Homo sapiens: one gene and its partners. The protein of the gene in region 1 purifies or fractionates together with the protein of each later gene. This does not show direct contact. Each region holds a gene or a part of one and is shown on either strand. Other genes may lie near its edges.

The links.
Region 2: the proteins of ZCCHC17 (region 1) and CST7 purify together in Homo sapiens (affinity purification with mass spectrometry; one large-scale study listed by BioGRID and IntAct). This does not show direct contact.
Region 3: the proteins of ZCCHC17 (region 1) and RANGAP1 purify together in Homo sapiens (affinity purification with mass spectrometry; one large-scale study listed by BioGRID and IntAct). This does not show direct contact.
Region 4: the proteins of ZCCHC17 (region 1) and NKAP purify together in Homo sapiens (affinity purification with mass spectrometry; one large-scale study listed by BioGRID and IntAct). This does not show direct contact.
Region 5: the proteins of ZCCHC17 (region 1) and DIPK2A purify together in Homo sapiens (co-immunoprecipitation; one study listed by IntAct). This does not show direct contact.
Region 6: the proteins of ZCCHC17 (region 1) and ITPRID2 purify together in Homo sapiens (affinity purification with mass spectrometry; 2 studies listed by BioGRID and IntAct, with this or other methods). This does not show direct contact.
Region 7: the proteins of ZCCHC17 (region 1) and BPIFB1 purify together in Homo sapiens (affinity purification with mass spectrometry; 2 studies listed by BioGRID and IntAct, with this or other methods). This does not show direct contact.

What each region holds. Positions count from the first base shown.
Region 1 is NC_000001.11:31,359,120-31,363,204, reverse strand, and holds part of ZCCHC17 (zinc finger CCHC domain-containing protein 17), read right to left. Parts: intron 3,618-4,085; exon of another isoform or gene 2,408-3,617; coding exon of another isoform or gene 2,375-2,407; intron 1-2,374.
Region 2 is NC_000020.11:24,947,510-24,952,309, reverse strand, and holds the start of CST7 (cystatin-F precursor), read right to left. Parts: upstream 3,042-4,800; 5' UTR 2,805-3,041; coding exon 2,735-2,804; intron 1-2,734. UniProt on the Homo sapiens protein: Inhibits papain and cathepsin L but with affinities lower than other cystatins. May play a role in immune regulation through inhibition of a unique target in the hematopoietic system.
Region 3 is NC_000022.11:41,258,394-41,262,478, forward strand, and holds part of RANGAP1 (ran GTPase-activating protein 1), read right to left. Parts: intron 3,188-4,085; coding exon 3,053-3,187; intron 1-3,052. UniProt on the Homo sapiens protein: GTPase activator for RAN. Converts cytoplasmic GTP-bound RAN to GDP-bound RAN, which is essential for RAN-mediated nuclear import and export. Mediates dissociation of cargo from nuclear export complexes containing XPO1, RAN and RANBP2 after nuclear export.
Region 4 is NC_000023.11:119,930,086-119,934,170, forward strand, and holds part of NKAP (NF-kappa-B-activating protein), read right to left. Parts: intron 2,132-4,085; coding exon 2,022-2,131; intron 1,927-2,021; coding exon 1,851-1,926; intron 81-1,850; coding exon 1-80. UniProt on the Homo sapiens protein: Acts as a transcriptional repressor. Plays a role as a transcriptional corepressor of the Notch-mediated signaling required for T-cell development. Also involved in the TNF and IL-1 induced NF-kappa-B activation.
Region 5 is NC_000003.12:143,981,454-143,985,538, forward strand, and holds part of DIPK2A (divergent protein kinase domain 2A isoform a precursor), read left to right. Parts: intron 1-4,085. UniProt on the Homo sapiens protein: May play a role in cardiomyocyte proliferation through paracrine signaling and activation of the PPI3K-AKT-CDK7 signaling cascade.
Region 6 is NC_000002.12:181,925,645-181,929,729, reverse strand, and holds part of ITPRID2 (protein ITPRID2), read right to left. Parts: intron 1,570-4,085; coding exon 1,465-1,569; 3' UTR 1,452-1,464; intron 170-1,451; coding exon of another isoform or gene 74-169; 3' UTR 1-73.
Region 7 is NC_000020.11:33,281,370-33,286,220, reverse strand, and holds the start of BPIFB1 (BPI fold-containing family B member 1 precursor), read right to left. Parts: upstream 3,008-4,851; 5' UTR 2,967-3,007; intron 189-2,966; 5' UTR 148-188; coding exon 33-147; intron 1-32. UniProt on the Homo sapiens protein: May play a role in innate immunity in mouth, nose and lungs. Binds bacterial lipopolysaccharide (LPS) and modulates the cellular responses to LPS.

The DNA of each region.
Region 1 (4,085 bases):
CTCAAAAAAAAAAAAAAAAAAAGTATAAGACATTGCAAACAATAAAGTAAATCTTTAAGTGCCAACAAGAAAAAAATAGCTAAAACATGTTAAGTAAAAGAACCAAGACATAATATGTATTGTAGGTTCCAGTGCGTATAACATATACATGTGTATTTATATATATATGCACATGATATAAACTGTGTATGTTACACATACTTGTGTATATTTAGTATACACAGAGAACACTGAAAAGGATACATCAAACTGGTAATAAGTGTTACACATTGGGAATGAACTGAATGGGGGAAAGGATATGGGTCTTTCACTTTTTCCTTCAAATACTTCTGTCTAATTTGATTTTTTTTAAACAAGTATCTTATTACTTTCATTTTTTAAAGTGCAGGACATTAAAGCTGAAAGGCGCCCCTAAAGACTAGCCAGTCTATCTAGAAACAGTGACTCACATATCCAAGGTCAAAGAATAGGAGTAAAAGATTTAGAACTCCTGACTGCTATTCTGGTTTCTATTAGATCCTGGTGCCAGGGGAAATAACTGCCATCAAATAATAAGCCTGTACTTGCTACCCTTGAATATTCATCATCTCTAACTTTACAGCCACCTCACAAGATTATACTCATAAAGAAAAGAGCTGAGAAAGAACATTCCCAAAACTATACCCACCACATCATGCTACCAAAGTAACAGTACAAACCCATACAAAAGACGAGAGGCAGATTCCCAGGTGTCTAATGGGGCAGTATGAGCAGATTTTAAGCACGGCATAAATCTCTTCTTTGAATTTCAAATACCTATATTGCCTCTGTAAGGTTTCTAAGAAGAGGGAGAAAGTATGGGAGGAGAAAGAGAGCAGAAAAGGATGCCAGCTTCCAACCAGCAGCCTCAGAGCTATAAATCTAGCTGAATGATACACCAGGTCTTAGAAGCTGGCTGTGAAAAATGGTGGAAAGAACACTGAAGCAGGTGTTAGATAGACCTGGACCTGAGTTCTGGCTCTGCCATTTACTATTCTGCATCCGTGGGCAAGTCATCTGAACTCACTGAGGCCTGTTCCCTTCAAATGTAAACTGGAGATAAGAATAACATCTACTGGCTGGGCGCGGTGGCTCATGCCTGTAATCCCAGCACTCTGGGAGGCCAAGGCAGGTGGATCATGAGGTCAGGAGATCGAGACCATCCTGGCCAACATGGTGAAACCCTGTCTCTACTAAAAATACAAAAATTGGCCGGGTGTGGTTACGCGGGCCTGTAGTCCCAGCTACTCAGGAAGCTGAGGTGGGAGGATCGCTTGAGCCCAAGAGCTGGAAGTTGCAGTGAGCCATAATCCTGCCACTGCACTCCAGGCTGGGCAACTGAGCAAGACCCTGTCTCAAAATAAATAAATAAATAAATAAATAAATAAATAAATAAATAATCTCCCCCTCTCCCCAAAAAAAACACCTATGGTGACAAGTTAATGAGATAGTATCTAAGGCTTGGACAAGTTGAAAGCCACTTGTCCCAGATCGCATAGGCGCAGTTGGGATCTTCATGTAGATCATATGAATGGAAATCTCCTGAGTTTTCCTATGTAGCACATGGCCCCTCTTTCTGTATGGTAACAGGAGGCCTCATGGTATGGTCATTAGAACAACAAATTTTGGAATAAGATAGAATTAAGTTCAAATTCTAGCTCTGCAACTTAACTCACTATGTGACTTAGAACAAGGGATTTAACTTTTTTGAACCTCAGTTTTCTTTTCAGTAAACTGGAAATAATAAGTACCTATTTCAAAGGATGCTATGAGGTTTAAACAAGATAAGCACTAACTATAGTGCCTGACACATTATAGGCACTTAGTGGGAGCTATATGTATTTTTCTCTCATTAACTCCCAGGATGTTCTGACAGCCTGGCCAAGCATCTACAGGAGACAAGTCAAAGTTTTAAGAGAAGATGAAATAACAATTCTTCCTTGGCATCTCCAATGGAGTAGAGAGAAGGCAACAAAGCTTCTCAGACCCACATTACCGAGCTATAACAACCATGGCTGGGAGGAGCTGAGAGTTGGCAAATCAATAGTTTAGCTATGTTGCTGAACCTTCCTGGATGGCAAGACCATGGAAGTCCATCACAAGATATTATGGGGTCAGGAGCCTCACTGGGTTCTGCCCCTTATATAGGTGAATATCCTGGGAAAGTAAAAATGAAAATACAGAGTCTGGCACCAGTTCCCTGCAAGCCTGGTCCAGCCTGGATAAAGAAGTGAGGAGAGTAATAATACTGCCTTACACCTAAACAGTGCTTTAGTTTATCAAGCTTTTTGCATCCTTATCTTACAATAATAGTCTGTAGAGTCAAACTTCATGAGTTATTATTCCCATTTTACAGATGGAAAAACTGCAACTCAGAAATGTAAAGTGAGTCGACCAAGGCTAAAGCGGCAAAACCACTATACTTTATAACACAGAGTTTGGCACTATTTCCACTTTGTTCTCTCTCAAAGATGAAGGCTCAGGAGGAGGGAAGATAAAAACAAATCACTGGAGAGTCCTGGCATGCTGGAACATGGACTCTAGCTAGCAAGAAGGGCTCAAGGAGGTGGCCTTCTCCTAGACCTCAACTTTGATGCAAAAGCTGTTTTGCAGCCTGAACAAAGACAATCCAATCCTCCAGCAAATGGCGTCATTTTCCCTACGTGTCTAGCCTTGAGCTACAGAACAAAAGAACAATCACATCCGAAGTTGTAGTTCGCCTGGTTGCGGTGGCTCACGCCTGTGATCCCAGCACTTTGGGAGGCCAAGGTGGGTGGATCACCTGAGGTCAGGAGGTCGAGACTAGCCTGACCAACATGAAGAAACCCCATCTCTACTAAAAATACAAAATTAGCTGGGCGTGGTGGCACATGCCTGTAATCCCAGCTACTCGGGAGGCTGAGGCAGGAGAATCGCTTGAGCGTGGGAGGCGGAGGTTTTGGTGAGCCAAGATCGCGCCACTGCACTCCAGCCTGGGCAACAAGAGCGAAACTCTGTCTCAAAACAAAACAAAACAAAACACGCACACACAAAAACAAAATTAGCCGGGCGTGGTGGCACATGCCTGTAATCCCAGCTACTCGGGAGGCTGAGGCAGGAGAATTGCTTGAACCCGGAGGCAGAGGTTGGGGTCAGCCAAGATTGTGCCATTGCACTCCAGCCTGGGCAACAAGATGGAAACTCCGTCTCAAAAAAAAAAAAAAGGTTGTAGTTCAAAAGCAAAGTTGGGAGTTGGGGTGGGGGAAGACTGAGAGCCAGAAGATGAACCAAGCTTCTGCTCTCTCAACTTCATTCAAGTGAGAAGGGAAACAGAAGATAATGGGTTAAAAAAAAATGACATGGATTCAAGTATCAGATGGAAATAGAAAATTAAACATAAAACAGTTTTTAAATGGCATAGGAGTGTGAGCCCATGGCGCAGGTCAAGGGGGCACTGGAAGGAAGCCACTGGTCAAACATCTCAAAGACTGCTCTCTAGGAAAAGCACATATCCCTTGTTAGAGCAGCTAGTCTACCCATTTTCACTATAGTTCTGAAACAGGATAGCAGCAGCCCAGTGTGACAGAAAAACAAAAATAAAAGCAAAAACTGAAAAAAGAGAATATAGCAGTGAACATTTATTGAGTACTTAATTTTCTATTTTATTTATTTACTTATTTTTAGGATGGAGTCTTGCTTTGTCACTCAGGCTGGAGTGCAGTGGTGTGATCTCGGCTCACTGGAGCATCTGGCTCCTGGGTTCAGGCAATTCTCCTTGAATCGCTTGTAGTCCCAAGTAGCTGGGACTACAGGCGCATGCCACCACACCCAGCTAAGTTTTGTATTTTTTTTTAACTAGAGTCGGGGTTTCACCATATTAGCCAGGCTGGTCTCAAACTCCTGACCTCAAGTGATCCACCTGCCTCATCCTCCCAAAGTGCTGGGATTACAGGCATGAGCCACCACACCCAGCCAGTACTTAATTTTCTAAAGGCAGGTGGATCTCTTGAGCCTAGGAGTTCAAGACCAGCCTGGAAAACATAGTGAGACCCTGTCTCTACAAAAACAAACAAACAAAATTACCAGTA
Region 2 (4,800 bases), on another chromosome or scaffold:
GCTGTATGATCTCAGGCAAGCTGCCTAACCTCTCTGAGCCTCCGTGTCCTCACCTGTAAAATGAGGATGCTGACGACAGTGAGAATATATGAGGCAACATACACGAAGCACTTGTCAATAAATGATGTGCAAAACTGTAATCATTATCAATATATCAAAATGCACATGGCCACAGCAGGGGTCTCAGGGCAAATGAATGCCCCCATTGGGAAAAACAAATCTTGCCACGTAGACGGTGGCTCAGCCTGCGGCAGCTCCCAGTGCTCCCCAGGAGGCAGGAGGTCCCCGGGCTGCAAGTGGTCTCTCTGCTACTGGGAAGTAAGGACTGACATCACCTTGCAGAGGGAAGCTGAAATGGCTCCCTGACCCCAGGGCCCCTGTCCAGGCAGATGGGCCGTTGCAGCTAGAGTGGAGGGGGCAGAGGATGACATGGCACCTGGCAGAGCTTCCCAGAAGAGATGCCCATCAGATTGAGAAAGAAACAGCCCTTTTCAAAAGGGTGGCGGAAGCCAGTGTGGCAATTTCCTAGGTTCTGAAAGCCTCAGGGAGGAGAGGTGCCCTGAGGGGCTCAGCGCTATGGTCTGTGCAGTTCAGTGCATGGGTGTGGAGAGAGGCCAGATGCTCAGACGGCACCACCCTTGGGGTCCCTGTTGCTTCCCCGCCCCCTACCCCCCTCAGTCATGAGGAAGGCTCTGTAATTTATTCTCAGAGGAGGCAGCGGAGGGGCTGTAGGAGTTGTGGAGTGGGGGCAGGACGCATGCTTGTGTCTGGGGCCCAGGTTCCCATCTCTTTTTTGCTGCTAGACTGGGGGCCTCCCAGCACCCTCCCTATACAGCCGAAGACTGAAGGCCCTTGCTGGAAGCACCAGAAATGATCACAGCGCCTGGGCAGGGTGCTGGGGGCTGTCACCAGCACAGTGGCAGAAGGGCCTGCACTAGACAGAGCAGGGGGCTGAGGCTGGCGGAGAGCACCCCATGCCCCATGTGCCTCCATGCCTGTGCCTTCCCCGAGCCACCTCTGTTCAGCCTCCCCAGGGCCGGAGACGGGGTGCAGTTATCTTCCCATTTCATGGATGGTAGGACTGAGGCTGAGGGCCCGCTCTGTGTGTGTGAACGTGGGCTCTGGAGCTTCTCTCTGGGGTTTGGTGGCTGACAGCAGGTCTGCTGAGAATGGAGGGAAAGGCTTGGTGCAGCATTACATACCAGCGAGGGGCCGGGAACACCACCCAGGAAAATGACGTTGCCAGCTGCCCAGCACATCGGCTCCCACGCCACCCTGTTATAGTCCCTAGCCTGCTCCGTGAGATGAGCAGAGCTCTGAAACCCCTCAGCAGTCAGTAGGTTTAATTAGATCCCAGGACACGCTAGGACAGCTGGCTCCATGTCCCCTCCAGGAGAGCCTTTTCTGAGGTGTGAGAACGAGCCACTTCTCTGGAGTGAACTTGCCTCTCTTCCCTGCTTCCCCCTTGGACCTTGGAGACACGAAGGGGCAGGGCACAGAATGGCAGCAGGCAGGCAGCACTGCATCAGGACAGGGCCAGGAGGAGAGGCCCCTGTGAGGCTGGGAAGCAGGTGGAGGGCTCCTTGCGTGAGCTAAGAAGGCTCCCAAGCTGGGAGGCAGGGCCGGGTATGCTGTCCCCAGCCTTCTGCCAGCCATGGGTCAGCTCCATGTTCGCTGAGCACTACCCAGAGCTGGTGGCGGTGGCATGTTCCCATCAGTGAGAGCAGAAGCTGCCCCCGGCCCCTCCTCCAGCCTGCCGTGTCCCCTTGGCTGCTCAGTCGCAGCGTCCGCCCTAGGCCAGGCCTGGGAGCTCGACACAGTGTCCCCCAGCATCACTGAGTCCTCAGTATCCTGACTCACCAGGAGGAGGTGAGAACCCTCCAAGAACCCCTTGGGTGCTCTGGAGCCATCCTCTTGTCAGTGGTCCTGCTGCACAGCCCCCACCTGGGCCCCTTTGGCCAGGCTCCAGCCCCCTTCTGTCCCTGTCTGCTGGGTGGGGGTCATATGACTTGAGCGGGTCACCTCAGCCCTCTGGTGCCAGCTTCCTGGTTGGTTAAATGAGGTGGGGGCCTCCCAAGTCCCCATCAGTATCCTGGTCTGATTCCTGTGCCAGGGAGGCCATGGCCCAGTTCCCTTTGGGGGAGAGCAGGTTGTCCCTGGCTGTGTGACTTGGGCAAATCACCTAGCCTGGCTGTGTCTCAGTTTCCCAGTGCACAGGCAGTGGCTCTTTCCTCCCTGTCCCCCCTCCCCCTGAGTGCTGACCCTCAGGGAGTGGATTTCAGGAAGGGTGAAAGAGTCTGATCGTTAGGGTCCCTGGAGCCAAGTCACAGGACAACAGCCAGCAGGAAGGAATGACAAGCCATCAGATAGAAGCGGCTAACCACAGGCATGTGGCTGCCCTGTCGCCTCCGTCCCGCAGAGGAGCTGCGGGAGACCTGCCTTACTTAGACCTTTCTCAGACCTCTGTGAAGAGCCAGAGAATAGAAGATGCTTCCCTTGCCCCTAGCCTTCTGGGGCAGCCCCCAAACCCTTCATCCCTGTAGCCTGCTACCCCCAAAGGTAGCTGCAGCCAGATGGAGCCCCTTGCCCCTCTCACCACTCCCAGCACCTCTCACCACCGCATGGTCCTGTGGGGGCTCCAAGCTAGGAAAGTGCCCTGGGGAAGACCCAAGGCACCAGTGGCCAATCTCAGGGAGAGACCCCCGGGGAGCGGACAGGGGAGAACGCCACTTACCTGGGGAAGGGCCCCCAGTGGTGCTCAAGACCAGGCAGCAGAAGGCCAGCAGAGTTCCAGCCGCTCGCATGGCTGCCCGGGTAGGGACAGTGCGGGGCAGTTGGGGGTGGCCGTGCAGTGCCTTCTCAGGCAGCATGGGGCAGTTGGAGGCAGTGGTTGGTGCCCGTGCCGAGCCTTCTTGGGTAGATGGCGCAGGGCAGGTGGGGGCAGTGGTCTGTGCCCGTGCCAATCCTTCTCAGGCAGCACGGGCCAGTGCCGGGCAATGGTTTGTGCCTGTGCTGAGCCTTCTTGGGCAGCATGGAACAGTGGGCTGTCCCAGCCCAGGGGCAGGTGCCAGGGCCACAGCATGGAACCCCACCCTGCAAACCACTGTGGGATGGGGCAGGGGCGGGGCTAGGGGGCTGCCTGCGTGGTGCTGGGGAGGGGAGTGTTTTGCTGCTGAATCATTTTGGCCAGAAGCTCTTCACCTTCAGATCTATCAGCCACAAAGCAACCGCTTCCTTTATAAAAGTTTCCGAGCAGCCGTCATTTGCTGGGGGAGGAGGAAGAGACATGAGACCCATGAGCAAATCCTGATGCAATGTTCTACCCCTGAGCCACACACGAAAGAGATGTTGCATGAAAAACATTAGCAGGAATTTTCAAAAGCAAAATCACTTGATTTTCCTTTTTCTTTTAATTACTTAAGTTCTGGGGTACATGTGCAGAACATGCAGGTTTGTTACATAGGTATACACGTGCCATGGTGGTTTGCTGCACCCATCAACCCATCATCTACATTAGGTATTTCTCCAAATGCTATCCCTCCCCTGGCCCCGGATCCCCAGATAGTCCTTGGTGTGTGATGTTCCCCTCCCTGTGTCCATGTGTTCTCATTGTTCAACTCCCACCTATGAATGAGAACATGCGGTGTTTGGTTTTCTGTTCTTGTGTTAGTTTGCTGAGAATGATGGTTTCCAGCTTCATCCATGTCCCTGCAAAGGACATGAACTCATCTTTTTTATGGCTGCATAGTATTCCATGGTGTATATGTGCCACATTTTCTTTATCCAGTCTACCATTGATGGGCATTTGGGTTGGTTCCAAGTCTTTGCTATTGTGACTAGTGCTGCAGTAAACATACGTGTGCATGTGTCTTTATAGTAGAATGATTTTTGAGTATATACCCAGTAATGAAATTGCTGGGTCAAATGGTATTTCTGGTTCTAGATCCTTGAGGAATCACCACACTGTCTTCCACAATGGTTGAACTAATTTACACTCCCACCAACAGTGTAAAAGCGTTCCTATTTCTCCACATCCTCTCCAGCATCTGTTGCTTCCTGACTTTTTAACGATCACCATTCTAACTGGCATGAGATGGTACCTCATTGTGGTTTTGATTTGCATTTCTCTAATGACCAGTGATGATGAGCGTTTTTTCATATGTTTCTTGGCTGCATAAATGTCTTCTTTTTAGTGTCTGTTCATATCCTTCACCCAATTTTTGATGGGGTTGTTTTTTTCTTGTCAATTGTTTAAGTTCCTTGTAGATTCTCGACATTAGCTCTTTGTCAAATGGATATATTGCAAAAATTTTCTCCCATTCTGTAGGTTGCCTGTTCACTCTGATGACAGTTTCTTTTGCTGTGTGGAAGTTCATTAGTTTAATTAGGTCCCATTTATCAATTTTGGCTTTTGTTGCTATTCCTTTTGGTGTTTTAGTCATGAAGTCTTTGCCCATGCCTATGTCCTGAATGGTACTGCCTAGGTTTTCTTCTAGGGTTTTTATGGTTTTAGGTCTTAAGTCCTTAATCCATGTTGAGTTAATTTTTGTATAAGGTGTAAGGAAGGGGTCCAGTTTCAGTTTTCTGCAAATGGCTAGCCAGTTTTCCCAACACCATTTATTAAATAGGGAATCCTTTCCCCATTGGTTGTTTTAGTCAGGTTTGTCAAAGATCAGGTGGTTGTTGATGTGTGGTGTTATTTCTGGGCTTCTGTTCTGTTCCATTGGTCTATATATCTGTTTTGGTACCAGTACCATGCTGTTTTGGTTACTGTAGGCTTGTAGTATGGTTTGAAGTCAG
Region 3 (4,085 bases), on another chromosome or scaffold:
TTCTCAGTCTGGTGTCCTCAGCACAGTGGGGACCCTGGCTGTGGTGGGCAGGCACTCATGCCCCTTCTCTGGATGACATAGCTCCATGTGACCTTTCTTTCTTAGGGGCCCTCCTAGCCCACCCACCTACACAACATAACCCCTTCGACATGGCGTCCTTCTCTAGGGATGAGGAGGGTGTTCCCTGGCCCATGCAGCCCTATCACAGCCTGGCCTTTTGATACCCATTCTCTCTGCCTCCTTATTTTCTTTTTCTTTTTTCTTTTTTTTTCCTTTTTTGAGACGGAGTCTCGTTCCGTCGCCCAGGCTGGAGTGTGATGGCATGATCTTGGCTCATCGCAACCTCTGCCTCCCAGGTTCAAGTGATTCTCCTGCCTCAGCCTCCTGAGTAGCTGAGATTACAGGCGTGCGCCACCACACCCGACTAATTTTGTATTTTTAGTAGAGATGGAGGTTTCACCATGTTGGCCAGGCTGGTCTTGAACTCCTGACCTCAGGCGATCCAGCTTCCTCGGCCTCTCAAAGTGCTGGGATTACAGACGTGAGATACCACACCCAGCCATTCAGCATTTTCTTGACAGGCTAACTCATATGAGTTCTAGGGCTCTTGTTTTGGTCACCTCCTCTCCCAGGAAGGCTTCCTGGATTCCCCCAGCCACGATCCAGTGTGCGTTCCTCTGTGCTCCCGGAGCACCTGGTCCCTCCTCTATCACGGTGGTCCTCATCCTGCCTACATTCAAAGCCTATATTCCGTCTGCATCCCATCGGCCCCTGAGCTTTGGAGGAGAGGGCCATGTCCCAGTCTCCACTGTGACCCAGGACTGAGGGTTGGCCTGGCTTAACTGTGCCAAGGAATCTTCTGCTGTCTTCAGGTGCTCAGTGCAGCACAGGGCAATGGGGGGAGCGGGTGGTCCACAAATAAATACAGGAAGGCCAACCTGGGCACACTCCAGGTCAGGCCTTCTTAGTATTTTCTGTGCCATGAACCCTTCAGGCAGTCTGGTGAAGCCCCTGGGTCCCCTCCTCAAAAAATGTTTTTTTAAAATTTTAAGATAAATTACACAGAATTACAAAGGAAATCAACTCAGTTGGAACAGTTATCAAAACATTTAGGAAAAAACTCCAAACGCATGCTGTAGTGATATACAAACTTCTTGTTAATGCACCAAATAACAAGATCTAGGGGTGGGTCCACTATTACTGTAATTTTGATGTAGTGAGAAATATTTCTATATATCAGCAGTAACTATAACTTCATATGAAATACCTGTGATTTCCACTGGGGATAAAGTCACAAGATTTTCTTTTTATTTTTTTAAAAATTTTAAGCTGGGCGCAGTGGCTTATGCCTATAATCCCAGCACTTTAGGAGGCCAAGGCGAGTGGATTACCTGAGGTCAGGAGTTTGAGACCAGCCTGGCTAACATGGTGAAACCCCATCTCTACTAAAATACAAAAATTAACTGGGTGGGCATGGTGGTGCACACCTGTAGTCCCAGCTAATCGGGAGGCTGAGGTGGGAGGATCACTTGAGCCTGGGAAGCTTCAACTGCAGTGGGCTGAGATTGCACCGTTGTACTCCAGCCTGGGCAACAGAGCGAGACCCTGCCTCAATAAAATTTTTTTTTTTTTTGGGTTCAGGGACTACATGTGCTTGTTTGTTATGTGGGTAGTCACAGGCCTTTCTAATGCTGTGAGGTTTATTGTCTACATTTATAATCAAAGGTCACACTACATATTTTAGCTACATTAGTAATAAATAATAATGTTATTTTTTCCTCATCCATGTTCACAGACCCCTGAATTCTATCCACATACTGGGGGGGATTAAGAACCCCCATTCTAAGCCCACCAGAGGACACCTATGAAGGCTCAACACAACCACAGCGCACCCCCTCCTCCCAGTGCACTGAGGACAGCAGGCTGACGGCAGGGAGGGATCCAAGGATGGCAGTGAGGCCCCCACCAGCTCCAGAGGAGGCAGCAGGAGCTCCCCTGCAGCCAGGGGTGCAGGGAGACACAAGGCAGATCTCTGCGATGTTCACTTGGCACTGAAGCAGGCAAAGGGTATCTACAGACAGCCTCGATGGGCAGCCAGGACATTCCGGCCCGTATGAGCAATGCTCCTAGGATACTGTTTGCTGAAGAAAACATTTAAATTAAGAGAAGAGGGGCCGGACGTGGTGGCTCACGCCTGTAATCCCAGCACTTTGGGAGGCCCAGGCGGGCAGATCACTTGAGGTCAGGAGTTCGAGACCACCTGGCCAACATGGTAAAACCCCGTCTCTAATAAAAATACAAAAATTAGCCGGGTGTGGTGGCGGGTGCCCGTAATTCCAGCTACTCGGGAGGCTGAGGCAGAACTGCTTGAACCTGGGAGGCGGAGACTGCAGTGAGCCAAGATCACGCACTGCACTCCAGCATGGGTGACAGAATGAGACTCTGCCTCAAAAAAAACAGGAAAGAGAGGAGGGAGACAGACCCCAAAGTTTTCAGTCCTGTTAGGGGCAAGTGTAGCCTTCTGCTGGCACTCACGATCGGGGACTCAGCAATGTCCTGCGGGGATGGGGAGAGGAGAGTGGAAGAGGAGTGGGGATAAGGTCACCTGAGAGCACGTCATTTGGCACCTGAGCCCTGCGGCTGCCCCTGCCTATCTCCCTGTCTTGGAGGTCTGGTATGTTCCTTCTCTGTGCCCCACACCAGTGGCTGGGCCAGGCTACTGTCAGCACTCGCACCATCTCACTTCACCACTTCTGAGCCTGGCAGATGACACTCCTTGGTCAGAGTGGCCTGCCTGGCCTGAAGCCCCATAGGGGCTGGCTCACCAGTGGGAGCCAGTCACACACCTTTCCGGAAAGTCACACACCTTTCCAGAAATGCACGACAGGAATTCTGGCTCATTTTCGGATGGGTTAACAGGCTTGGAGAGGGCACGTGACGCCCCAGGTCTCTTGGTTGAGTGCCAGCCCTGGGATTAGCATCCAGAACTGTCAGCCTACTATGCCGAGTGCACCTCAAGGCTGCAGGGGCAGGATGGACAGAAACCACTCACCCTAAAAGCTTCTGCCAAGGCAGTGGCGCCATCATTCTCCAGACGGTTTCTGCCAGCCACAAAGACCTTCAGGGCCAGAGGCTTGCCTTGGGCACTGGATTTCCGGTGACATTCGGTCAGAGCTGCAGCCAGGATCTGTGGGGAAAGGCAAGGGGCCCTGGTCATGGGCAGGAGCCCCTTCTCCCAGCGGGGTGGCCACTGCTGCTGAACTGCTCTTCAACATCCCACGCCACCCATCGGTGCAGGTCAGGGGACGCAGGACTGCTAACAGCTCAACAGTCACACCTTAAATATGTCCAGCACTTCAGTTACACAAGGTTTTTATCTCTAATGCTGTGTCACACCAGCCTGAGAGGTTTAGCTTCACTTTCGAGACGGGGAGACCAAGCCCTACTCAGGAAAGGGAGAGACCACATGGAGTGGATGAACTTTTAGCCAGGTCCAGGGGAAGGACTTCCTAGTCAGCTCACTTCACTGTCTAAGGCCCTCTGCTAGGTGGGAAAATCATGGCTCCCATTTTCCAGCTGAAGAAACTCAGGGTAAGAGGAACGGAAACTTTCTTATGGTCAATAAACAAGTGGTGGACTCTGGACCAAAGCCCAAATCTTCCAGCTTCTCTTCCACGTTCCACAATGTCCAAGGGAGCCAGCTGCCAAGTCCACGGTCCAGACGAACCTGTCTGACACCTGCCTGTGCCTAAAAGCTGGCCAGGCACAGCAGGAGCTTGCCTGCTGGTGGTAAAAACCTAACACCCAGCTTGCCCTGTCCCTGGTGTGGTGCCAGGAAGTAGCTTCTACCCTGGTTACACCATTAGGAAAAGCACTGAAAAACGGAGACTGACCGATGGGAATCAGAGCCCATGGTAAATGCGACATAAAAGAATCACGAGCGAGTGCACCGAGAGAAGTGATATTTGCAGAACACCTGATGTTTGCAGAGCACCTGCTAGGGCCTGGGCATCCTTGGCATATTTTCTTGTTTCAACCTCAACACCAGCCTGGGAGGCAGGCAGGATTGGCCGTACTTTACAGAT
Region 4 (4,085 bases), on another chromosome or scaffold:
CTCTTCGTGGGATACGTTTTCCAGCTTTTACATATTCAGCCATAGCTGCACCTTCACCAGGTAACAGAGCATGGCCATAGCTACAAAGTAATTCAGAATTCAGAAAAGGTCCATTAAATCATCTTAATATTAAAAGCTTATAATCTAAAGAGAGCACCAAAAATCCCCACATTTTCTCTCAAACAAGAGTAGGAATAACAGTGCTCAGCAGTAGTGTGCTAGGAAGCTCAATGTGAATTGCTTTATCCTAATTAGTGTATTAAACATTGCATTGCACTATGACCTATACAACTAACCCAGAAATGCAGAAATATTTTGAAAGAAAAGAACTGCTGTGAGTATAGATTCACAGTTTACAATTATGGATTAATTTATCCCTACAGGTATTGTCATTACTGGTTCTGGCTCCAGCTGATTCCCTTTCCCTTTTTCCCTTAAAAAATCCAAAGTATGCCAGGCACAGTGGCTCACGCCTACAATCTGAACACTTTGGGAGGCTGAGGCGGGAGGATCACCTGAGATCAGGAGCTTGAGAGCAGCCTGGCCAACATAGCGAAACCCCGTCTCTACTAAAAATACAAAATTAGCCGGGCATGGTGGTGCATGCTTGTAGTCCCAGCTACTCAGGAGGCTGAGGCAGGAGAATCACTTGAACCTGGGAGGCAGAGGTTGCAGTGAGCCGAGATCGTGTCACTGCACTCCAGCCTGGGCGACAGAGTAAGGCTTTGTCTCAAAAAACAAAACAAAACAAAACAAAAAAAAAAAACAAAGTAGGCTGGGTGCAGTGGCTGACGCCTGTAATCTCAGCATTTTTGGAGGTTGAGGCGGGCAGATCACTTGAGATCAGGAGTTCGAGACCATACTGGCCAACATGGCGAAACCCCAGCTCTACTAAAAATACAAAAATTAGTCCGGGCGTGGCGGCAGGCGCCTGTAATCCTGGCTACTTGGGAGGCTGAGGCAGGAGAATCACTTGAATCTGGGAGGTGGAGGTTGCAGTGAGCCAAGATCATGCCACTGCACTCCAGCCTGGGCAACAGAGTGAAACTCAATCACACCACTGTGCTTCAGCCTGGGAGACAGAGTGAGACTCCATCTCAAAAAAACAAAACAAAACAAACAAAAAAAAAATTCTAGACCAGGTGCGGTGGCTCACGCCTGTAATCCCAGCACTTTGGGAGGCTGAGGCAGGTGGATCATGAGGTCAGGAATTTGAGACCAGCCTGACCAACATGGTAAAACCGTATCTCTACTGAAAATACAAAAAAAAATTAGCTGAGTGTGGTGGCGCGTGCCTGTAATCCCAGTTACTCAGGAGGCTGAGGCAGGAGAATCGCTTGAACCTGGGAGGCAGAGGTTGCAGTGAGCCAAGATCACGCCACTAAACTCCAGCCTGGGCAACAGAGCGAGACTCCGTCTCACAAAAAGAAAAAAAAATTCTGCTGGTAAAAAAAGAAAAAAGAGAAAAAAAGGAATAAAAAATTCTGTGAGGATCAAAGAGAAACAGAAATCACACCTACTTGTGGAGGGGAAGTATTGGGAATCAGCATATGCATCTCCTTTTGAAAAGGGCTTCGAAGGATAGTAAGGATTTTAACAGGAAGAAACTGGCGATAGGGAAGAAAACAGAGGGCAGGGAAAAGAAGGGAAGGCATACTGGATGAAGAAATAAGCTGAACATGGCATAAAAGTTGCAAAGTGCACATTAAGCCCAGGGAATATTTAGTAGTCCAGCTCAGCTGGAACCTGGAGTAGAAATAAGGGAATAGAGTCAGATAAGCTTGGCAAGGTAAGTTAGAACCAGACTTTTTGGTAGGTACTTTAGATATTATAAACACACTGCTGCTTACTTCAAAGGTTTATCATCTTGAGAGGTAAGTGTTTTTGGAGCCTCTGGGCCAATTAAATCTGATGGTTCTTCAGCCTCTGCATGAAAGATATTAAGAAACACATTCACATTCTGACTAATTGGTTACTTTAATGTTTCATCTGTTCTGAGTTAGTCTATCAGAAGAACCTACTTGTTCGATCCTTCCAGGGATTTTCCAGAAACTCTTCTTGGGATTCTTTAGAGCTTGAATCACTGGACTCTTTTCTGCTCTTCTTAGACCTCTTTTTCTTATATTTCTTCCTATAGGGATTTTAATTTGATACAAATTCACTTAATCTTCCTATGTTAGAGGGCATCTTAATTTTTCTTTTCTTTTTAAATTTTGAACTGGTGACTATACATCTTAATTTTTCAAGGCAAAGAAAGGTGACAATAAAATGATCTGAATTCCCAGCTTATTCAAACTTACAAGATAATTTTACTTAAAAAAATCTGCTTCTAACTGAACCTGGGAAACAGAGCAAGACCCCGTCTCTATTAAAAAAAAAAAAAAGTAGCTGGGTGTGATGGCACACATCTGTAGTCTAAGCTATTCAGGAGGCTGAGGCGGGAGGATCACTTGAGCCCAGGAGTTCGAGGCTGCAATGAGCTATGATTAGCCCACTGCACTCCAGTCTGGGCAACAGAGCGAGACACTGCCTCTTAAGAATTTTTTTAAAAAGTATTCTAACTTATTTAACCAAATCATCTTTTGCTATAAAAATTATCACTAAAGGAGGCTGGGTGTAGTGTTTCACCCCTGTAATCCCAGCACATTGGAAGACTGAGGCGGGTGGGTCACTTGAGCCCAGGGGTTAGAAACTAGCCCTGGGCAACATGACGAAACCGTGTCTCTACAAAAAATACAAAAATTAGCCAGGTGTGGTGGCACACGCCTGTAGTCCCAGGTATGGGGAAAGTGGGGGCAGAGGTGGGAGGATGGCTTGATCCTGGAAGGTTGAGGTTGTAGTGAGCTGTGATCGTGCCACTGCATTCCAGCCTGGGTGACAGGGTGAGACACGGTCTCAAAAAAAAAAAAATTCACTAAAGGGAACAATGAAATACAGTTCTGATGTTGTAGAAAGACAACAGAAATAAAACAGCCTAAAAAGTCCCAACAATTTGAACATTATGAATAATTTTATGTGTAATGGATTAAAATATGTCAAATATGTTTAAATCCTTGGGTTAATAATACTTTTTAAAAATCCAATTCATTATTTGAAAAGTCATTAAAACAAAAAAAATCAAGCAATTATCCTGCTCTTACAATATAAACTATATTTCAGGGTATCTAAATAGTTGATGAGGGTAAGTTTCTCTTATAGAATCATTCTGCCTAATAAATGAAGGATAAAGCCAGGATTAGACTATCACCATTTTACAACCCCTAATGAAATAATGGATCGAGATAATGACCATCAATGGCTGTTAATATGACAAAAAGTGACAACCAGACATTATTTGCCTCCTGACAGTAAACAGCACCACTTATGAAGTATTCTTGCCCCAACTCAAATCTGAGCCTTCTCAGGCCTCTAGACCTATTAATCTATTGGAAATACAGAGGACAGAACATGCCAAAGAATACCATAAGAATACGGTCACTGCAATTTAGGGACATTATTTGGATCCTGATTGGAATAAACTACAGAAAAAACTGCTGAGAATAGAGGAATTATTATTAAATGTTTTAGGCACAATAATAGCATTCTGGTTATGGGTTTTTGTTTTTTTTTTAAATATAGAGACAGGATCTCGCTATGTTGCCCAGGCTGGTATTGAACTCCTGGGCTCAAGCGATCCTCCTGCCTGGCCTCCCAAAGTGCTGAGATTACAGATATGTGCCACTGTGCCTGGCCAGTTTTTTGTTTTGTTTTGTTTTAAAGAATGCCTATCTTTGTGAACCCGGGAGGCGGAGCTTGCAGTGAGCCGAGATCGCGCCACTGCACTCCAGCCTGGGCGACAGAGCGAGACTTCATCTCAAAAAAAACAAAACAAAACAAAAAGAATGCCTATCTTTTAGAGAAAGGTACTGAATTGCTTATGGATGGAATGATATCTGAGATTGGGTCCAAAATAAATGATGGATGGCAGATACTGCCCATGAGTTGATAATTATTTAGACTGCATGACAGGTGCAGGAAGGATCATTATACTATTTTATGTAATTTTATATGCATTTGAAATTTTCTGGCCGGGTGCAGTGGCTCAC
Region 5 (4,085 bases), on another chromosome or scaffold:
CAGGCTTTTCATGTGCCTGAACTGCCCCATCTCCAGTCTGCTTAATATTAAACTCATCCTTTAGGTCTCAGCCTGGGTGGAGATCACTTAGGTTAAATAATCAATCTTAACATTATTTTTCCAGCATAATGTTGGCTTCTGGAATGCTCTTATGTAATATATAAACCGTTACCTTTATAAAATCTGAAAAATTCTTAAACAGATGATAAATAAGCAAAAACAAAAACAGAAACAAAAACAAAACAAAAAATAAACCCAAAAAAACCACCCCAAACTAATAAAGTTTAACTTCAACAAAAGGATATTGGCTTGAGGGAGGTTGTGTTAATCTATCTTTTGAATTCATTTTGACTGTTGTAAAGATAATTATAGCTTGGCCTAAATTTGCTTCTTACTACCTGTGTGACTTTAGGTAAATCGTTTAACACTGTACTAATAAGATTGAACTGGATTTACAATTGAGGTACAGTTAAACTCTAAATTTCTTGGATTTTACATTTCCTTTATTGATCACATAAAATATTTGATTTTGATCTAGGTAGATTATTAGGTTATTTCAGCATTTGGAATTTGTTTTGTGCTTATCAGTAATAAAAAACAAGTTAAAATACTGTGTTTTTGTGTGTACACGTTTCCAATTTTTAAGTTTCTTGCATTTTTAGTGCTTGTGGATGCTCTCTACGTTTCTTATAGCATCAGTGCTTTTAAGAGTTTAGTGACTAGTCTATATATTTCATTATGAATTAGAAATTACTAGAGGTCAGTAAAGATGTTTCTCTAATTTAGTGGTTCTTCACTCTATTTGGAAGGGGGTTCATTATTTGTAGATGCCGTTTTAGTAGGTGTTTAGGAGGTGCATGAAGATAAGCATATCTTTTGATGAATGTCTGGAATTGTTACTTAAAATTTTTAAATAGAGAAAGCCCATCAGACTAACAGCAGATCTCTCTGCAGAAACCCTGTAAGCCAGAAGAGAGTGGGGACCAATATTCAACATTCTTAAAGGAAAGAATTTTCAACCTAGAATTTCATATCCAGCCAAATTAAGCTTCATAAGCGAAGGAGAAATAAAATCCTTTCCAGACAAGCAAATGCTGAGAGATTTTGTCACCACCAGGCCTGCCTTACAAGACCTCCTGAAGGAAGCCCTGAATATGGAAAGGAAAAAACAGTACAAGCCATTGCAAAAACATACCAATTGTAAAGATGATTGACACTATGAAGAAACAGCATCAACTAATGAGCAAAATAACCAGCTAGCATCATAATGACAGGATCAAATTCACACATAACAATATTAACCTTAAATGTAAATTGGCTAAATGTCCCAATTAAAAGACACAGACTGGCAAATTGGATAGTTAGAACCCACCAGTGTGCTGTATTCAGGAGACCCATCTCACATGCAAAGACACACATGAAACATTTACCAAGCAAATGGAAAGCAAAAAAAACACAAAAAAAACAAAAGGGGTTGCAATCCTAGTCTCTGATAAAACAGACTTTAAACCAACAAAGATCATAAAAGACAAGGGCATTACATAATGGTAAACGGATCAATGCAACAAGAAGAGCTAACTATATATACATGCTCCCAGGATCAGGAACACCCAGTTTCATAAAGTAAGTTCTTAGAGACCTACAAAGAGACTTAGACTCCCACACAATAATAGTGGGAGACTTTAACACCCCATTGTCAATATTAGACAAACGAGACAGAAAATTAGCAAAGATATTCAGGACTTGAACTCAGCTCTGGACCAAGTGGACCTAATAGACATCTACAGAACTCTCCACCCCAAATCAACAGAATACACATTCTTCTCAGCATCATATTGCACTTATTCTAAAATAGTAAAACACTCCTCAGCAAATGCAAAAGAAAATCATAACAGTCTCTCAGACCACAATTCTAATTGCAGTCAAATTAGAATTCAGAATTAAGAAACTCACTCAAAATTGCACAACTACATGGAAACTGAACAGCCTGCTCCAGAATGACTACTGGGTAAATGATAAAATTAAGGCAGAAGTAAATAAGTTATTTGAAACCAATGAGAACAAAGACACAACATATCAGAATCTATGGGACACAGCTAAAGCTGTGTTTAGAGGAAAATCTATAGCATTAAATGCCCACAGGAGAAAACGAGAAAGGTGTAAAATCGACATCCTAACATCACAATTAAAAGAACTGGAGAAGCAACAACAAACAAATTCTAAAGCTAGCAGAAGACAAGAAATAACTAAAATCAGAGCAGAACTGAAGGAGATAGAGACACGAAAAACCCTTAAAAAAATCAATGAATCCAGGAGCTGGTTTTTTGAAAAGATTAGAAAAACCAGACCACTAGCAATACAAACTGTTTTGTATTGGGAAGGCTGTTTCATCTACATTTTGTATTGGGAAGGCTGTTTCATCTACATTTTGTATTGGGAAGGCTGTTTCATCTACATTGAAAATCTGTTGATTAGTCACTTCCATTAATTATCTTAGCTAGATCTTCTGGATAATTTGCTATGGTTTCTGTATCAGCACTTGCTGCTTCTCCTTGCGCTTTTATCTTACGGTGATGAATTCATTCCTTAAACTGCATTAACCAGCCTCTGCTAGCTTCAAACTTTTCTTCTGAACTCTGAGCCTTCATAGAATTGAGGAGAGTTGGGTTCTTGTTCTGGATTGGGTATTGGCTTAAGGGAATGTTGTGACTGATTTGATCTTTTATCCAGATCACTAAAACATTCTCCCTATTAGCAGTAAGGCTGTTTTGCTTTCTTAACATTTGTGTGTTCACTGGCGTAGCACTTCTGATTTCTTTTGATAATATTTCCCTTGCATTCACAGCTTGGCTGTTTGGGTTAAGAAGCCTAGCTTTCTGCCTATCTCGGTTTTAGATGTGCCTTCCTCACTATGCCTACCTATTGTTTCTAGCTTTTGATTTCAAATGAGATACCTGTAACTGTTTTCATTTGCACACTTAGAGGCCATAGTAGGATTAATAGGCTTAATTTCAGTATTGTTGTGTCTCAGGGAACAGGGAGGCCTGAGGAGAGGCCTCCCTGTTCCCTGGGGATGGCTAGTTGGTGGAGCAGTCAGAACACACACATTTATTGATTCCTTTTTTTCTCTAATGTTCATTTTCTAGTTACATATTTTAGCAGTGGAAGGTATCTTAGATAAAGCCTGTTATTTTACTTAAGGTGAAAATGAGTGTTCATGGTCATGGAACACGTTTTTTTTTGATTTAGGATGATAATCCTGCCAGTAGTTTTAAAATCCATTAGAAAACCTTGCTAAGATAAGAGTAATTTTGAGGCTAGGCCAAGGAGAACAGAAAATATGGCTGGGAAAGGGAAACAAGATGAACTTGGACCAGATGTGCTCAGAGTGGAGGTTGCATTAATAGGATATCAGTTTGTCCCTTCCCAACCTTTGGATGTAGGGTAAAAGACATCTCTCAAGAATCTTTCCCTGAATTCCACCCCATCTGCTTCCTGACTAGGAAAGGCCCCTACTAAATGATCCCCTGGGACCTGCACCACTGCTTAGTAACTAACACTTTTCATATTCATAATTATTTGTTTGGTGACTGCATGCTCTTCTAAAATAAAAGCCCATGGCTAAATGGAGACTGTTTGGTTCACCCTTAATTGCCACCGTAACACAGTGCCTGTTGCCTGGTAAATAACTGCTGGTTAATAGGCTGCAGTGCTATCAGTTTAAATAAAAGGATTGGTTGATTACATTTACACAAGTGAAGAAGATAAGGGAAAGCATAAATACTTTTAGATTTGGTAATAAAGACAGTGTCTTCCCTCTTATTGATCATTTTGGTTCTTAGATTTTGATAAGCAAGACTTGTCATCCTATTTTAGCTTTATAATGTAAAGTTCTCTATTTAAATTTTTTTCAGGTCCATAGTACTGGTATGAGTTAGGAAAAAATGAAGTTAATCTCTAATAAACTGTTGAATGTAATAAGAAAATCCAAAGTCATTCCTAGTAGCAATCTCTACTGAAAGGATCTGAGGATAGACCTAGGATATTTTCATCAGAATCTCTTGTAATATTAAGATAATTCTTTT
Region 6 (4,085 bases), on another chromosome or scaffold:
AGTTTCTATGTACGTCTTTTTAAAATATATGGTTGAAGAAATACACATTGTACACTGTATACAGTAGCCCAGCTCAACAGCAAGTATCTTCTAAAGCACAAATAACACCTCCACCAGTGCATATCATTGATAATTCCAGTATTACACAGCTAATAGGATCCATGCCAACCTTAAAAAAGAAAAGAGAAGTCAGTTTTAAACCTCTTTCAAATACTGTTATTAAAAGCTTCTTTAAAGGAAGATGAGAATTTTATGCAAATATATATACACAGAAACATGATTATCCTGTAATCTCTATACATCTTCCTGAGAGTTAATTCTTATATCCCTGGCTTTAAAAAAAATAATTCCTATTAATTGCTTTGTGACATAATTTATTAAAATACTTTCCAATTTCCTATATCTGAAATTGTATATTATACTTTTCAAATTACATTTGTTTCTCATGTCTTATTCAATGAATATTTTTAGTTCTATTCTACTCAACTTATTCTTTCTTTTTGCATTCACCAAGAATTATTATTAATATATATTATATAAAATGAAGTTAGAGCTAAAGCAGGAGGATCGCTTGAGGCTAGGAGTTTAAGACTAGCGTGGGCAACATAGCAAGACCCCATCTCTACAAAAAAATTTTTTAATGTAATTAGAGCTACGAGATAAAATGAAAGTAATTCGTTTTACTAAGACAGACATATAAAAGAGTTTTTTGAAATAAATTATTATTAGAAATGAATCTATGGGATATGTTTCTTTAAAAGATAAAAATAATTAGGAAAGATACTTAGAAGTTGTGATTAATTCGGCCGGGCGCGGTGGCTCACGCCTGTAATCCCAGCACTTTGGGAGGCCGAGGCGGGCGGATCACGAGGTCAGGAGATCGAGACCATCCCGGCTAAAACGGTGAAACCCCGTCTCTACTAAAAAATACAAAAAATTAGCCGGGCGTAGTGGCTGGCGCCTGTAGTCCCAGCTACTTGGGAGGCTGAGGCAGGAGAATGGCGTGAACCCGGGAGGCGGAGCTTGCAGTGAGCCGAGATCCCGCCACTGCACTCCAGCCTGGGCGACAGAGCGAGACTCTGTCTCAAAAAAAAAAAAAAGGAAGTTGTGATTAATTCACAAAATCTTGTTCTTTAAAACTATACATCTGAAATACCATTATAATCAAAATAAGATTCAGGTTTGAAGGTCCAATTCCAGGATTTATTACTATAATGAAATTTCAGTAGAATGACCCAATATAAGTAATTCCTTGGAGATTTGTATTATGGGATTTGACTTACACTTCAAATAGGCTTGTGTGAAATTTTCACATTGTAAAATAACATATTACATACATTCTAAAACTCAAAATTTAACTAGAGAACCAAACCTGTATACTAACAAAACAAAGAATAAAATGCCAGTTACTATTTACATTTAGCTCAACAAAGAAACTCAGAAAAATTTACCTATAATTTCTGTTTAATGATAATCTTGCTTAGAATTAGACGCTTTACTTGAAGATACTGCTGCCAAAAGTCCACTTACAATTTCCCGTCTGATTTCCCCAACAATAGACTCTTTAATCTAGATTGGAAAAACAATAAAACAAAAATTTACCAATATGAATGGAATTCATTTTTTCCTGTTTTTGGAAAAAATACAAATAGCATTCAATTTCTTAATTTCACCTTCATGTGAATCTCCCTGCAATACAGAGAGGGAGTGGGGAATCGAGTCCATCTATCATCCAACCCAGATCAGACTCCCAAGGACTGGTCTAGAATTGTTCAGCTAACTAGATTACAAATATCACAATTCATAAGGTGAGGACATTAGAAAATGTTATTTCATAAGTTAAAAAACTTCTAGTAAATACTTTACCTCATGTCAAAAAAATAATCTGGAAGGACTTCTTAAATGTTTTTAGTATTGTCTAACTTTGTAAGGTAATCAGCAGAGACACAAGTGCTCTCATTGCTGAGAAAATCTTTTAGAGGCAAAATAGTATACAGGTATACTGCCTGTTTATGCCAACTGACAGCAAGGTATCTAAAGACATATTGTTCAACCTAACACATTTAAAATGGGAAGAAGAAATTATCATTTAGTACAATTTATTTTATAATATAAAAAACATCCTCAAAACAACCATAAACTCTAAAGAAATAACTTTTTCTTTAGTTGCATGGTATCACTGCCAGCCATCTAAGCTTTTGTTTCCAATATGCATATAGGATATGAGGATATACATCTCATTTTATTGTTGGAAAAGGCAAACAGACCTGAGGAAATGACAATTCCATCAGGATTTTCTTCTACAGGTGTCCAAACACTTACATATGCCTATCTCCACCTTTTCTCTCTAATGATACAGCATCACTTTTAAATAGCCCTTTGTGAAAGCTATAAATGTGTATTTCCTGAAATAAAGTGATAATGTGTTCCCAAATAAGCACTCAAGATACTCTCAACAAGCTTTTAAAAATTCTACATTTCCAGTTTCCTGTCAGCCAAATTGATTTATTTCCTACAATGTTCCTAAGTACATCTCAAACACATCTTAACTATAATCTTTCCAAAAATGGTCCTGTATTAGTCTATCATGCAAAATTGGTACACAATACATAGATTTATACATAGTTATTTAAAGAAACAAAACACTCCTTAGCTACCAACCATCTGTACTGGAATATATTTAAATACTATAAGCTTTTCACTTTACCTTTTATCAATATTTCTAAACTTTAAACAACATCAGAAGATTCTGAAGCACACAGCACTTCAGATTTACTTTTCAAACAAGTATGTGTTGGATACAAATATTTTAAAAACCAGAATCTCTTAGTCACAGTATATAAACAGAAATACAACATACTGAATTAGGACCACTGCAAATCTATATTCACAACAATGAGTATAGTCTTTCCAGTCCTGCTACCAATGCAATATGGCCATTTTATTATATCTCATTATTCTTCATCACTCAAAAAACAAACTAGCCAAAATGTATTCTCTTTTTTTTTTTTTTTTTTGAGATGGATTCTCACTCTGTCACCCAGGTTGGAGTGCAGCGGTACAATATCGGCTCACTGCAAGCTCCGCCTCCTGGGTTCACGCCATTCTCCTGCTTCAGCCTCCTGAGTAGCTGGGACTACAGGCACCCGCCACCACGCCCGGCTAATTTTTTGTATTTTTAGTAGAGACGGGGTTTCACCATGTTAGCCAAGATGGTCTCGATCTCCTGACCTTGTGATCCACCCGCCTTGGCCTCCCAAAGTGCTGGGATTACAGGCGTGAGCCACCGCGCCCAGTCGCCAAAATGTATTCTTGACAAACCAGGAATGTGTGCCAATCTTTTTTGGGAGTACAGGCATTATTGGAATAAAGTATAAAAGAATCCCTACCATCAAGCATGATATAATCTCAATGGACACAAAATGAATACTGTTTCATAAAATATATTTCTTATTTATTTATTTTTGTGACAGAGTCTTGCTGTGTCATCCAGAGTGGAGTGTAGGGGCGCAATCTCGGCTCACTGCAACCTCTGCCTCCCACGTTCAAGTAATTCTCCTGCCTCAGCCTCCTGCATAGCTGGGATTACCACCACACCTGGCTAATTTTTGTATTTTTAGTAGAGATGGGGTTTCACCATGTTGGCCAGGCTGGTCTCGAACTCCTGACCTCAGGTGATCCGCCCACCTCGGCCTCCCAAAGTGCTGTGATTACAGGCGTGAGCCACCACACCTCGTCGGTTTCATAAAATACTAAAGGAAAAATAATTTATTGATTCATTAATGACATAAGAACAAAAAATTTTGATAAATGAGAGACTAGTGTGGGACAAAATTCTCAGAGAATGGCAGCTTTTACATGGTATGTCACAACAAAGAAAGAACAATTTCAGATGACAGTGGAGATAGAAAACTCTGTAGCAAGACGGTCTCAAATAAGAGGGGAGTATAATGGAGCCTGACTGCCAAGACAGTTCCCTCTAGAGAGCAGAAGGGAATCAGAATAGGAAGGGTGAGGTCAGATGGAAGGTGTACTGTGAGCTCCTTCAGCGAGCAGGTCAGGTCTCATTTATCAGTGTATCTCAG
Region 7 (4,851 bases), on another chromosome or scaffold:
ATGGCAGCCAGCTCCGGAGGGACAAAACTTACTTTCTTTGATGACTTTTGGGCCGAGGATGAGAACTGCAGTGGGACTGAGGGTGGCTTGGATCAAGGTGGCTGCCAGCAAACCACAGAGAAGGGTGAAGGTCCACGGGCCGGCCATCTTCCCAGGTGTCAGAGGGCAGCAAGTGCAGGATGCCAGACCTGGGGTGAGCACAGAGGGACCTGAGGCAGAGGGGCCAAGGGCAGGCCCATGATGCCCGGTGACCTGGGGCACGGTGTCCAGGAGAGGCTGTTGAGTGCAGTGTTTAACTGCCTGGGCTAGCTGTGTAGCCTTAGGCAATCAACGTAACCTCTTTGTGCCTCAGTTTTCTTATCAGACAAATGGGGATAATGACCCCAGCTTCCCAGAGTTGAGGGATTAAGTGAGTTAATATCTGGAAAGCATTTAGCACGGTGTCTTTCACATGGTAAGCACTTGGAATGTATTAGCTATTTTCTTTCTTTTTTTTTTTTTTTGAGACAGAGTCTCGCTCTGTCACCCAGGCTGGAGTGCAGTGGTGCCATCTCGGCTCACTGCAAGCTCCACCTCCTGAGTTCACACCATTCTCCTGCCTCAGCCTCCTGAGTAGTTGGGACTACAGACACCCACCACCGCGCCAGGCTAATTTTTTTTTTTGTATTTTTAGTAGAGACGGGGTTTCACCGTGTTAGCCAGGATGGTCTCGATCTCCTGACCTCGTGATCTGCCCACCTCGGCCTCCCAAAGTGCTGGGATTACAGGCGTGAGCCACCGCGCCCAGCCTGTATTAGCTATTTTCTTACAGAAAATCCAGCAACAATGCTCAGAACAAAGAACTTCTGCTTCCCGTGTCTCCCACCCCTCAGTCTGACACTTAAAACCCTCTATGGTTCACCGTCTGCTGACCTCACCTCCTGCTTTCTCTCCCCTTGTTCTAGCAAGTTCCAAGCAGTTGGAAGGTCTCAGAACATACTGTGTTCTCTCCTGTGTCCGTGCCTTTGCTCTTGCTCTTCCTTGCTTCCTGGAATGCTTTTCTCCTCCCATATCTCCCTGATGAACTCCTATTCATCCTTTAAAACCCTGCCAAGATTTGTCACTTTCCCTATAAAGCTTCCCCTGTCCTGCAGACAGGGAACCTGGACCACACTTGGAGAAATGTTGTCCTGGGGCCCAAGACATGAAGGTTGGAGGCAGGAAGGAAATGAGGAGCCAGGTAGGACTCAAAGTTGTGAAAAAGCTCTTTGCTTAATCTGCAATACTAAGGGGGCTGGGGAGGGACTGAATGGCTTCTTGGAGCCAGGAAAAGAAGGGCAGAGAGAGAGAGAGAGAAAGAGAGAGAGAGAAAGGGCCCTGTGGCTCATGCCAGGGAGAGGAGCTTGGGGGTATTCTGGCCCCTTGGCTGCTCTGTCCCCTCCCTCCACAGGGGTGTGGCATCAACATCTGTAGTCCAGTCCTGAGCTCTCCAGCTTGCACCCTGGCTCTGTCTGCCAGCCCCCCATGGAAGCTCCTGCCCCTGTGGACTGTCCTGCTTGGAGGGAGGGGAGACGCTGCAGAGATCTGAGCCCCTCGCTTGGTTCAGCATGTGGATTTCTTTTTGCCAAAGACAAATGTGGCATCCGGATGACATGTGTCTCCTGTGCCCTGGAGCAGTGTGAGCTCTTCTGAGACCCTTGCAATAATGATTCAGCCTCTGCTTCCCTGACCAAGCTGTGAGCTCTGGGAGGGAGGGCTGGGTCTGCCTGCTCCCTGCTGTGTCCCTGGCATCCAGTATAGTGGTTGGCATAGACCAGGTGCTTAATAAATGGCTGCTGAATAATTGCATAGCCTCTGGAAGCCCCGAAAGAATTGGAAATCTGAGCCTGCTAAGCTGAAAAGGTTAGTGTTAGGAGGCCTGAAGGTGGAGGGGAAAATATTATTGGCTTGGCAGCCAGATGAACCCTAGTTGGAGGCCTGCCTCTACCACTTGCTCTGTGATCTTTGACAAGTGACTTACCCTTTCTGAGCCTCCATTTACTCATCTATAAAATGGGGAATAATTATAGTACTTATGTCATAGGCTTTTTGGGAAGATTAAATGAGACAATCTATTTGTGGCCTGGCATGGCCAAGCGTTCAGTAGATGGTAGCTTCCACGATAATTATGACAGGTATTATTACTAATATTGGAGTCAGAAGGAGACACCTTGCAGCCAAAGCCAGAAGACAGAGCTGAACCCCGGCATCCAGGCACCCCTGTGGCCCCACTCCATATTTTCCTTGCAAATACCTTGACTCTGTCTGTCCTGCATTATCTGTACACACTGCTCAGTCCTCTTTGGATCAGAGAAACCCAGGGACCCACGAGGATGGTAGCATCCCTGTTTCCCTCCTGTGGAAAAGACTCTCCTCCCCCAGATCCAGGCACCACACACGCCCCTGTCATATGGCACCTCCTCTCCCAGCCTTTGCTTCTGCTAGTTCCCCTTCGTGGAATATCTTTCTCTCCTCCTTTGCCCAATCGCCTTCTACTCGGCTTTGCAACCAACACATCACCTCTTCCAGGATCCCTTCTTTGACTGTCCTCCACTCCCATGTCCCTGGGTCTTCCTTGGGCACCACATTGTCCTGCACTGGGAGTTCTTTGAGGGACAGAGTCTGCGTCTCATGCTTCTTTTGTCCCAGCACCACCGCAGCACAGCTGGGACAGAGCAACTGGTATGTGCAGAGTGGGTTTATGTCACTAGGAAGAGGTCAGGAAAACACTCAGCCAGCCCCATCCCTTCGTCACTGCCCTTTGGTCCTCTGGGCGAGGGAGCTGGGCATCTCTCTACACCTGGCCCTGACCCTCAGCGGATCCTGACTCACCGAGGGCCCTTCCCTGAGGGCGAGCCTCCCCTGTGCTCCTGACCTGACCCCAACAGGTATCTCTAGCTCAGAACCTTCCTGGCAACCTTGGCTTTCAGCCCCTTCCCTACTTTTACCTGGGCACGCTGGAGTCCTCGGCCCGCTCCTCTCCTCTCCCGGGCAGTGGGTCTGGAAGTCCAACCTTATATCCTGCACACCCCAGCACAGGCTTTGTCTTTAGGCAGAGGCCTCAGACCAGGCCGAGGTCTCCAAGGTAAATATTTGTGGCTTCTGCTGAACCACAGCCCCGCCCGGAGGCAGCCTTGGGACTCCAGCTTCCTGAGGTTTGGAGAAAGGAAGGTCCAGGCTGAGAGAAGCACAGTGCATATAGCAGAATAAGCACTCCATAAATGTGAGTGGCCGTTGCCATTAATATTATTATTGCTTATAATAGGATGAGCCTTTGTAGAGGGATTACAACAATTGTTTAATCCAGATAATCAATTTGGGAAAAGGAAGGAGTAGCCTTACCCACCCCTTATTCCTAAATACATCAAAGATACACATCTCCATCAATTAATTCACCCAGGAGAATAGATTTGAATCCTATTTTTGCCACTGCTTTGCTGTGTGCCCTTGGGCAAGGTACTTCACCTCTCTGGGCCCCAATGACCTCATCTATAGCATGGGGATAATAGTAGCTCCTCCTCATAGGTTGTTAAGAGCATGAGTTGAAGTGCATGCCTACACAGTGCTTAGCATGGGCTTTCATTTCATTCATTCATTCATTCCGCAGCAATTAAAATCTGCTCTACCTTGTCTGCATCTTTAGGAATCTCCATGAGCACTTGTGGACCAAAAGAATAAGGAGGGATGACCATGAACCTAAAGGACAAATGTCAGAGCCCAGCAGGACGCTGTCATCCACCACCTGGGCCCAGGTCTTGGCTCACGCAGCCTGCACAGTCACCCAGAGGTGGGCATCAGCAGCGTTAATGTTACAGAGGGCACCTGAGGCTCAGAGAGGCGAGTGACTTGCTCAAGGTCACATGACCAGGGATTCCAGCTTTGGGACCTGAACCCGATCATCAGTCCAGACCGGACCCTCTTAACCGCCACACTGTCCTTCCCCTGAGACTTCAATTTAGCACTGGAGGTGGTGGTGACACCAACATGGCCTTTTGATGTCATCTGGGGAATTATCCTTGCTACCCAGTTTTTGTCTAGAAGAATGGAATTGTGGTTTAGAGCTGGGATGGCCATTGTTGAATCCTGTCTCCATCTGCAGCAGACAAGTCAGGGGCAGTAAGTGTTCTGAGGTCACAAAGTACGTGGCCAGGCCCTGGCTGGTCTCTTCCTCCTGCTTTTTGACAAGAAGAACAAGGTGAAGAGCGTTTGCTGTCCTGCCATGTTTGCAAACACACCAAAAGCCCTGAATACCTAAAGGTGAGGTGTTTTGAGAGAGCTCTTGGGAGGACCCTGCCGATCCCTTGGGCACATCTCCAGAGAGGCAAATGCCCCTGCTTGGCTTCCCAGCTGGCCATGCCCACTGCCCATGGACAATGACCCTCTGTGCGGTGCTCGGGCCCAATGCCAAGACCTGGGGCCGCATCAGCTCCTGCTTCCTGCCACGTGCTGGGACAGCAAAGCTGGCTGCATCTCTGCAGGCCCATGGTCCCCAGACTCCACACCTGCCCTCAGTACCGCGTGGCCCCTCCTCAGGTTGCTGGCGTCTCTTGGCCTTGGCTCCACCTCTCTTCAGCTCCCAGGCCTTTTTGTGCCGTGTCCTCTTTCTGGAGTACCTCCTTCACCCTCCTGAAAACCTAATTGTGCCCTGTCTGGGAAGAAGCGCAGGAGTGCAGGAGGAAGCCTGTGGAGGCCGACAGACACGGCTCAGATTCCTGCTCCTATACTGACAGCTGTCAGCCTTGGGAAAATTGCTTCTTCTCTATGAGACTGTTTCCTCCATTGTGAAATGGGACTATTTTGAGGGTCTCGTAAGGTCATGAGAAATGCTTGAAA